Linked DNA regions of Homo sapiens. Changing the gene in region 2 together with the main gene of any one other region gives a genetic interaction. Each region holds a gene or a part of one and is shown on either strand. Other genes may lie near its edges.

Region 1 (3,430 bases), on a different chromosome or scaffold from region 2:
TGCTGTCACCTGGCTCCCCCTGCTGGGTGCTGGGTCTCCATTTCTCCCTCCACCCACCCTCAGCAGCATCTGCTTCCCATGCCCTCACCATCACCTCACTGCCCCCAGGCCTTCTGCCCTTTGTGGGTGTTGAGCTCACCGCCCACCCACAGGCACTCATGGGAAGAGGCTTTCCTTCTGGGATGGGGGCGGCTGGTAGACACCTTTGCTTTCTCTAGCCCTCCTGGGCTGGGCTTGGGCACAAATCCCCAGGCAGGCTTTGGAGTTGTTTCCATGGTGATGGGGCCAGATGTATAGTATTCAGTATATATTTTGTAAATAAAATGTTTTGTGGCTAGGGGTTTTGATTTCATCAAGAGGCTTAAAATGACCTTCCCCGGAGGTGATTCCAGTGCTATTTCCCCTCCCTTCCTGCAGCCTGAAGGATGGGGGCCAGAACACAAGTGTCACCCATCCTACCTGCCCCAGGCTTTAGGGGCACACACCACAGGAGACTCCAGTCCAGAAAAGGATATTTTTTTTATTCAAGTAACTGCAAATAGGAAACCAGAGAGGGAGCCCCAGGCTGGGACAAATCATGGCTACCCCTCCCCAACAGAACAGGGGGAGGAGGTGGCCCCTACACCCTTTATGGTCGATTTGGGCCCCCTTGCTCACTCTGCTGCAGCATCCTAGGGGCAGGGCCCCACCTTCCCTGGGACTGGGGTAGTCGGTCACCCAGCCTGCCATGCCCCAGCCCCTCTTCCCCACAAAGAGTATCTTGGGGGAGGGGATCGTGGGCAGAACAGGAGGCAATGAGGATGAACATTTGGCGCTGGTAGCAGCAGCAATGACGGATGTCGAAGAATGGAACATTGAACAAAAAACAACACAACTGTCCAGAGGTAGTTTGTGAACAGAGGAAAAATGGAACCAGAACCTTGGGGGGCAGGGAGGAGCAGGAGGGGGGTTGGGAGCGGGCAGGGTGAGCTCCTTGTTATTGGTGCCCCATCTGAGGAGGGGGAAATGGCTGAGTGGCGGAAGCAAAGTAGGGTTAGGGGAGCAGCCCCAGCCCACCTCAGGTGGCGGCCACAGGGCTCTTGGGCCTCACCTGGACAATAAGTGACTGCATCTCCATCACCACAATATGTACTCAGATCCCAGGCGGAGGGCAAGGGGGCTGTGGCCACAGTGAAGAGGGAGTAGGGGACTCACCCCTCCTGCCTTCCTGTAACCGAAGGGGGCTGTCCAACCTAGTACGGGGACTAGGGAAGTTGGGGAAGGATGAAAAGTGAGCCCCACGTGGTGACAAAGACAGTTTGGCTGGGGGAATCCTGGGGGCCAGCACCCCCCTCCATTGGCCACACCTGCTGCTGCCAGGGCAGTGGAGTAGGGCGTGCCAGGATGAGATGGGGCTTGGGCCCCTTTTAAGGCCAGGGGAACCCTCCCAGGCCCCACTATGGGAAGCCAGAGGGAACAGTGAAGGAGCAGAGAGGGCGCCCCCAAACCAAAAGCCCAGAGAGCAATGTCCCCACCACCAAGGGAGTGGGGACGCAGCAGGTGCAGGGTGCGGCTAAGTGGGATGTTAGCCTTGTCCAGGAGGGCATGTGTGTATGCGTGGGTGGGCGGGGGGAGCTGGGAACTGAGGCCAGGGGAAAACTGCTCCCCACTCAGCCCATGGGAGCCCTGCAGCGGCTGGTGTGCTGTGTAGTGTGGTGGTGAGGGCACAGGTGGAAGATGGGGGTGGCGGCCAGAGGCGGTGGTGATGGTGGGCCTGGGGAAGGGGTGGGGGCGGTGGGAGCGGAGCAAAGCTGTCCAGTCCCAGAAGGAAGCTGCTCCTCCAGTGAGGAGCAGGCGGCACGCATGGGTCACTGCTCCTCCTCCGAGGACTCCTGCGAGATGCCCTCCTCTTCCTCCTTCTCCTGTGAGGTGGGCAGTTGTTGGTGTGAGCTCTGGCCCGGTCCCCCTCTTCCACCCCCAGAGGCTGGCCCCACCCGCTCCCTGCACTCCCTGGCTCTCCTGAAGAGGGATGAGTCAGGGCTGAGTGTGTGGGTGACTCAGCAACCTCCACGGCCCGGCTTCATTCATAAAAAGAATTTAAAAGGAGGAAAAAACCCCACACACATGCTGCTCTCACCCAGAGCCAGGAGCCAAGCCCCCTTGGCCCCCAGGCCCAGGGAGGGCAGGAGGGCAGAGCTCAGGGCAGCAATGAGCTTCAGGATGTGACTGACTCCCTAGGGGAGAAGAGGAGGTGGGGGAAGAGGTGGCTGGGGGAGGAAATGGGAAGGGGTGGCTGGAAGGTGCAAGAGCCCGCTGGTGGGTGCAGGGGAACCAGGTCCTTGGCCCACAGGGGCAGATGCTGTGCTGTGGTGCCCTGGCCCTCCGGGGTGGCCGAGGGCTGACCCTAGGCCGGGGTGGGGAGGAAGGGGAAGTGTGTGCCGCCGGGGCTCACTCACTGGGCGGGAATGTCGGGACACCACACGGGGCTACAGCCCCCGTGCCAGGCACAAACTCCAAAACAACTTGTTTCCTGTTACTCACTCTTGGGGCCTGGCCAGCAGCACCCCCTAACCCCCCCACCCCAGCAGTGGCTCAGCTCAAGGAATGACAGCTTCAGGGATTTGAGGGGGCAGGCTGGGGGTAGGAGAGGGCCAGGAGCTGGAAGGCTGGGGTGACCCTAACTGCAGTGGCCCCCTAGAGGCAGCTTCTTGACTCAGCCCACCGAGCCTTTCCACCAGCTGTTTGGGGACCCAGAATTGGATGGTGCCCTCCAGTGCAGTGTGGTGGGTCACATCAGAACTCCAGCACCGACCCCTCCCAGGGCCCAGCTCCTTCGCTGTTTCTCTTCTGCAGAGGCTCATAGGAAGGACAAACCTTCCCCCTATGGCTTCCTTTCCTCATCTCTAATTGAGGGGGACACAGGCTAGATGACTTCCAAGATCTCCCCTAGAAGTTCTGAGTATTCTAGGAGCAGGAGAGGGAGGGACCCCCACACACAACTAGGGCAGGGCAGGGCAGGGGGATGTGGTCTGATTTATACCTGGGACCCCTCACTTCTCATGGGCACAGCCCAGGCCAGGTACCTTCCCCTCTCTGGACTTCTGTAAAATCTGATGTCCCAGCAGGTCAAGGAGAGCCTTTCCATAGGGGGTGCATAGCATCAGGTACTGTGTACTCAACACCCTCAACTCAAAAGAGCCCAGGAGGCAAGCAGCAGTCTGCTTCTTCACCTACCAGTTTTTTGGGTCTGCCCCTTGGTTTCCTTCCTGGAGTTGTGGTGGTTTTCTAGAGGGTTAGAGAAAATATCTCCTAAGTCCAAAATGCTCATCAGTGCTCACCCGATGCCCAATAGTGATGGGGGGCAGACCTACCTGCCTGTTCAGGGTGACCCAACACTCTCACCCAACAGGCCCACCCAAGTCCAGCTGGCAATGACTGGCCAGCCACATTT
Region 2 (3,560 bases):
TATCAACTGTCCCCTTCCTATCCTCCTCTCCACCCTGTTTTTTGTTTTTTTTTTTTTTAAATAATATTTTGCTATGGGGGAGGGGAATATCAAATGGACAAGATCACTTTTAAATGGTAGTTTTTATAAGATGTTATAAACTTGTATCTTTTTACCATTAAAGTGCAGTGTATGTTCCTTCGTGATATATTTAGGATATTTAAATAAAAGGAAAATGGGGCTTTTCTACATACTATCTCCTCTTTGGGGAAGCTTTTTCATACTGGTTTTAGTTGTTTTCCTTTTTTCTCCCTACATAATCACCCCACAACTTCCAGCACCCTATAAGCCATTTTAAAACCCCTTCTCCACAGAGGAACAAGCAAGTAGGAGCAAAAACAGGGCATCAGTTCTGAGCAAGACGAAAAAGCACACGCAGCAGGACGGAAGGAGGCTAGACACCAACAGATGCAGTGTCTCTGACCTGGGACCCCCCTGCATCCGCAGCACTTGAGAATTCATAGGCCCTTTCCAGACCTGGCTTCCTGGGTCCCAGGGTGCACCCCGGGAGTTTCCTGCACATTCGCGCTTGGGCACCTCTCCCTGCCCTCAGGTGGCAAGAGGAGGATGGACAAGAGCTTTCCCGAGGCCCAGGCTATAAACAGTCTGCTTTGGCCTTGATGAGGTAAAGCAAAGTGACAGCTGTGGTCTGAGGTAAGACTTTATTGTATACTTGGGTGGGGTAGCCCAGATGGATGCAAGGTTGCAGGCATGGGAAGCAGCCCTCTTGGGTGTCACTCTGAAAATGAAGTAGGGTGGTGGCCGCACCTCGCCAGTGAATTAGTCCCCTACCAAGGTCTTACAGACCCACCCTTCCTCTCACCCTCCAGTTCCCACTGTCCTCCAAGGAGAAGAGCCTTGGGTAAGTGTCCCTCCCTCCTTCAGAGAGTGGGACTGTCTGCCTCTTGAAAGCGAGGATTGATGGTGGTCGTGATGGCACTTTTGTAGAGAGGATTACTGTCCTGGAGAAAGATGTTGCAGATTATAAGCAAAAATCCCAGGATTCCTCGTCCCCTTTCTAGACCTAAGAGGCCAGCCTTGAGCCGAATCCTAGGAGCTGATGGAAGTTAGCAGAGGGGTTGGTTACATGTGCCAGGGGCTGGGGGAACCCAGTGGGAGGAATCAGGGCTGGTCTTGTGGTGGGGGAACAGCTAAAAAGGGGCCTAACCAGGAAGTCTCCTCACCTGCTTCCAGTTGAGTTGTTGCTGCTCCTTCTCAAAGCGACTGTATTCCCGGCGGTCATAGATTTCCACCGAGAGCCGGTAAGCCAGGACCAGCCCCAGCCCCACTGCCACGATGCCCCCTACGCAGCCCAGCACAATGGCCTGCGTGTGGTCTGCTCCCTCTGTGAACAAGAAACCAGACACACTTGTGGGAGCTGGAGCATAGGGACAGATCATCAGTTGCTCACAGTGTGTCCAGCCTGTCCAACCCTGTCTGTCACTGAAAGCAAAGGGAACCCAGGGAGGTCCAAGGTTATCCTCACCGCCCAGGGCCTTAGCCTCGTCCACTTGCTCAATTGCCTCTGCCTTTGTCCTGGATTCACAGTTCTGCTTCAGCCCCCAGCCTGTTTCCCATTATCTTCACTCTGCATCCCCAGAGTTGAGACCCTGCCCATCAAACTTCCAGGGTTTGTGGCATCCCTGCCCACTTACTTTCTTGGGGTCTCACTCTGAGCACGACCGTGCCTCTGGCGTCATCCTCCACCAAGAAGAAGAACAGCTGGTTGTCCAGGGTCCGCTCTTTGCACCAGCCATCATCCAAGATAGGGGCCAAGGCCAGGGTCACATTGGTATGGGCACAAGCTGTACTGCAGTTGGTGGCCAGTGGGCCAGTCCTGAAGGCCCCACACTCTGCACAGTCCCTGTGTAGTAGATGCCAATAGGTTACCAGCTGGGCAGTTGTCACCCAATGCCCCTTGCCCAACTACAAGCAGGACGGAGAGTAGGCAGATGGGAGTAGCTCAACAAGCCCCACTGTGCCCCTGCTCCCAAGATGCAAGACCTGAGGCCTCACCGGTGTCTCTCGCATGGTGTCTTGCAGCCTGGGCATTGGTCGCATAGAGCACCATAGTAGCCGTCCAAGCACTGGCAGCGGTTGCATTTGCAGCGTCCATGCCCACTGCAGAGCCCTCCCTCGGGACTGATGCAACTGTCCATGTCCCCACTGCATTCGCATGCTCTGCCCGTGCGGTTGGCATGACAGTGACATACTCCACATTGGCAGCGACCAAAGCCTGGGGTAGAGCCATGCAGAGGGTGACAACCATACTCCACACACACAGTTGGCCATCATGTGGCACGACAAGCCCACGCATCCAATCTTTTTGAAGTATGCCAACCACACCCTCTAACCCATACACCGGAATCTTTTGATATTTGCCTTCCATGCCAGGAGATTCCCAGAGCCTAAGTGCCTTGGGAAGGCCTCTCAGACCCCGCCCTTCTCCCCAAGGCTCCAGGTACCTCCGCAGAGGATGCCCTCATGTCGCTCACAGCTGGCATCGTCACACTCGCACAGATGCCCAGAGCTCTGTCCACTGCAGCTGCAGCGTCCACATTGACAGTGACCCTTTCCACTGCACAGGGGCCCTGTGCCATTGGGAGCCCGGCACCCAGATTCCAGGTCTGGGGAGGACAGCTCTGCCACAGAGCACTCACAGAGCCGACCTAGGCGGCCAGGGGCACAGCTGGAAGGGGAAGGCAAAGGAGAGAAGTAGGTCAGAGGGTTTGATCACCCCTGACTTGTCTCTCCCAGGAACCTCTAAACCCAAGTTCTCAAAAGAGTTGGAGACAGACAAACAGCTGAAAGGATGTTAAGTATAGTGAAACACTGAGGGGTGAGAGAGTGGAGGGAGCCCCAGTCAGGGGGAGGGCCTGGACATACATGGGAAGCTTCAAGGGATGAAACTGAGTGGGGAGTCGGGATGTCGAGGAGACTCCTGTGGGGGGGATGGAAAGCAGCGGAGGAATACGGGCCAGGGTTGGTTGGTTGTTGGGAGCCAGGTGGTTGAAGGGAAGAGGAGGCCCTCACCTGCATACACCACATTGTAGGTGTCCCTGGCCATCACTGCAGTGGGGAGCCTGGGGCTGGGTGTCACTGCAATTACAGTCACACAGCGTGTGCAACTCCACAATCAGCTCCTCTGAGAAGCCAAGGGCCCGGAGCCTCAGGAGATGGGGCTCTGGGAGGCAGTGGGTGGCTTGGAGAGAAACCCAGAAAGTCACCTGAGAAGAGGCAGGAATCAGGCCATGGTTATACACATGCACACACACATACCCCAAACTCACCAATCATCCAGAACCTCACCCCTTAGTAAATGAAGGGATGGGGTCATGTTAACACCCAACTCCTAGAAACATGCCTGAGGAAGCCACTCAGACTGCTCCAGGAAGGATGGATGGAGGACTACCTCAGGCTCTCATGTCACTCCCTGTACCTGCCACCCATCTTTTCCTGCCTGCTTAATTTCCCACTCCCACCTCCCCCTGCCCGCCTTCTGCCTGTGCTTGCTGGCTCTC

What was found.
Region 1: changes in ITGB7 (region 2) and HMGA1 together harm fitness more than expected from each alone (negative genetic interaction), as found in Homo sapiens cells (one large-scale study listed by BioGRID).

The regions. Positions count from the first base shown.
Region 1 is NC_000006.12:34,243,302-34,246,731, reverse strand, and holds the end of HMGA1 (high mobility group protein HMG-I/HMG-Y), read right to left. Parts: intron 3,265-3,430; coding exon 3,214-3,264; intron 1,902-3,213; coding exon 1,848-1,901; 3' UTR 501-1,847; downstream 1-500. UniProt on the Homo sapiens protein: HMG-I/Y bind preferentially to the minor groove of A+T rich regions in double-stranded DNA. It is suggested that these proteins could function in nucleosome phasing and in the 3'-end processing of mRNA transcripts.
Region 2 is NC_000012.12:53,190,636-53,194,195, forward strand, and holds the end of ITGB7 (integrin beta-7 isoform a precursor), read right to left. Parts: exon of another isoform or gene 3,267-3,560; coding exon 3,073-3,266; exon of another isoform or gene 2,729-3,072; coding exon 2,505-2,728; exon of another isoform or gene 2,276-2,504; coding exon 2,056-2,275; exon of another isoform or gene 1,904-2,055; coding exon 1,695-1,903; exon of another isoform or gene 1,385-1,694; coding exon 1,224-1,384; exon of another isoform or gene 1,097-1,223; coding exon of another isoform or gene 1,064-1,096; exon of another isoform or gene 1,002-1,063; coding exon 921-1,001; 3' UTR 688-920; downstream 1-687. UniProt on the Homo sapiens protein: Integrin ITGA4/ITGB7 (alpha-4/beta-7) (Peyer patches-specific homing receptor LPAM-1) is an adhesion molecule that mediates lymphocyte migration and homing to gut-associated lymphoid tissue (GALT).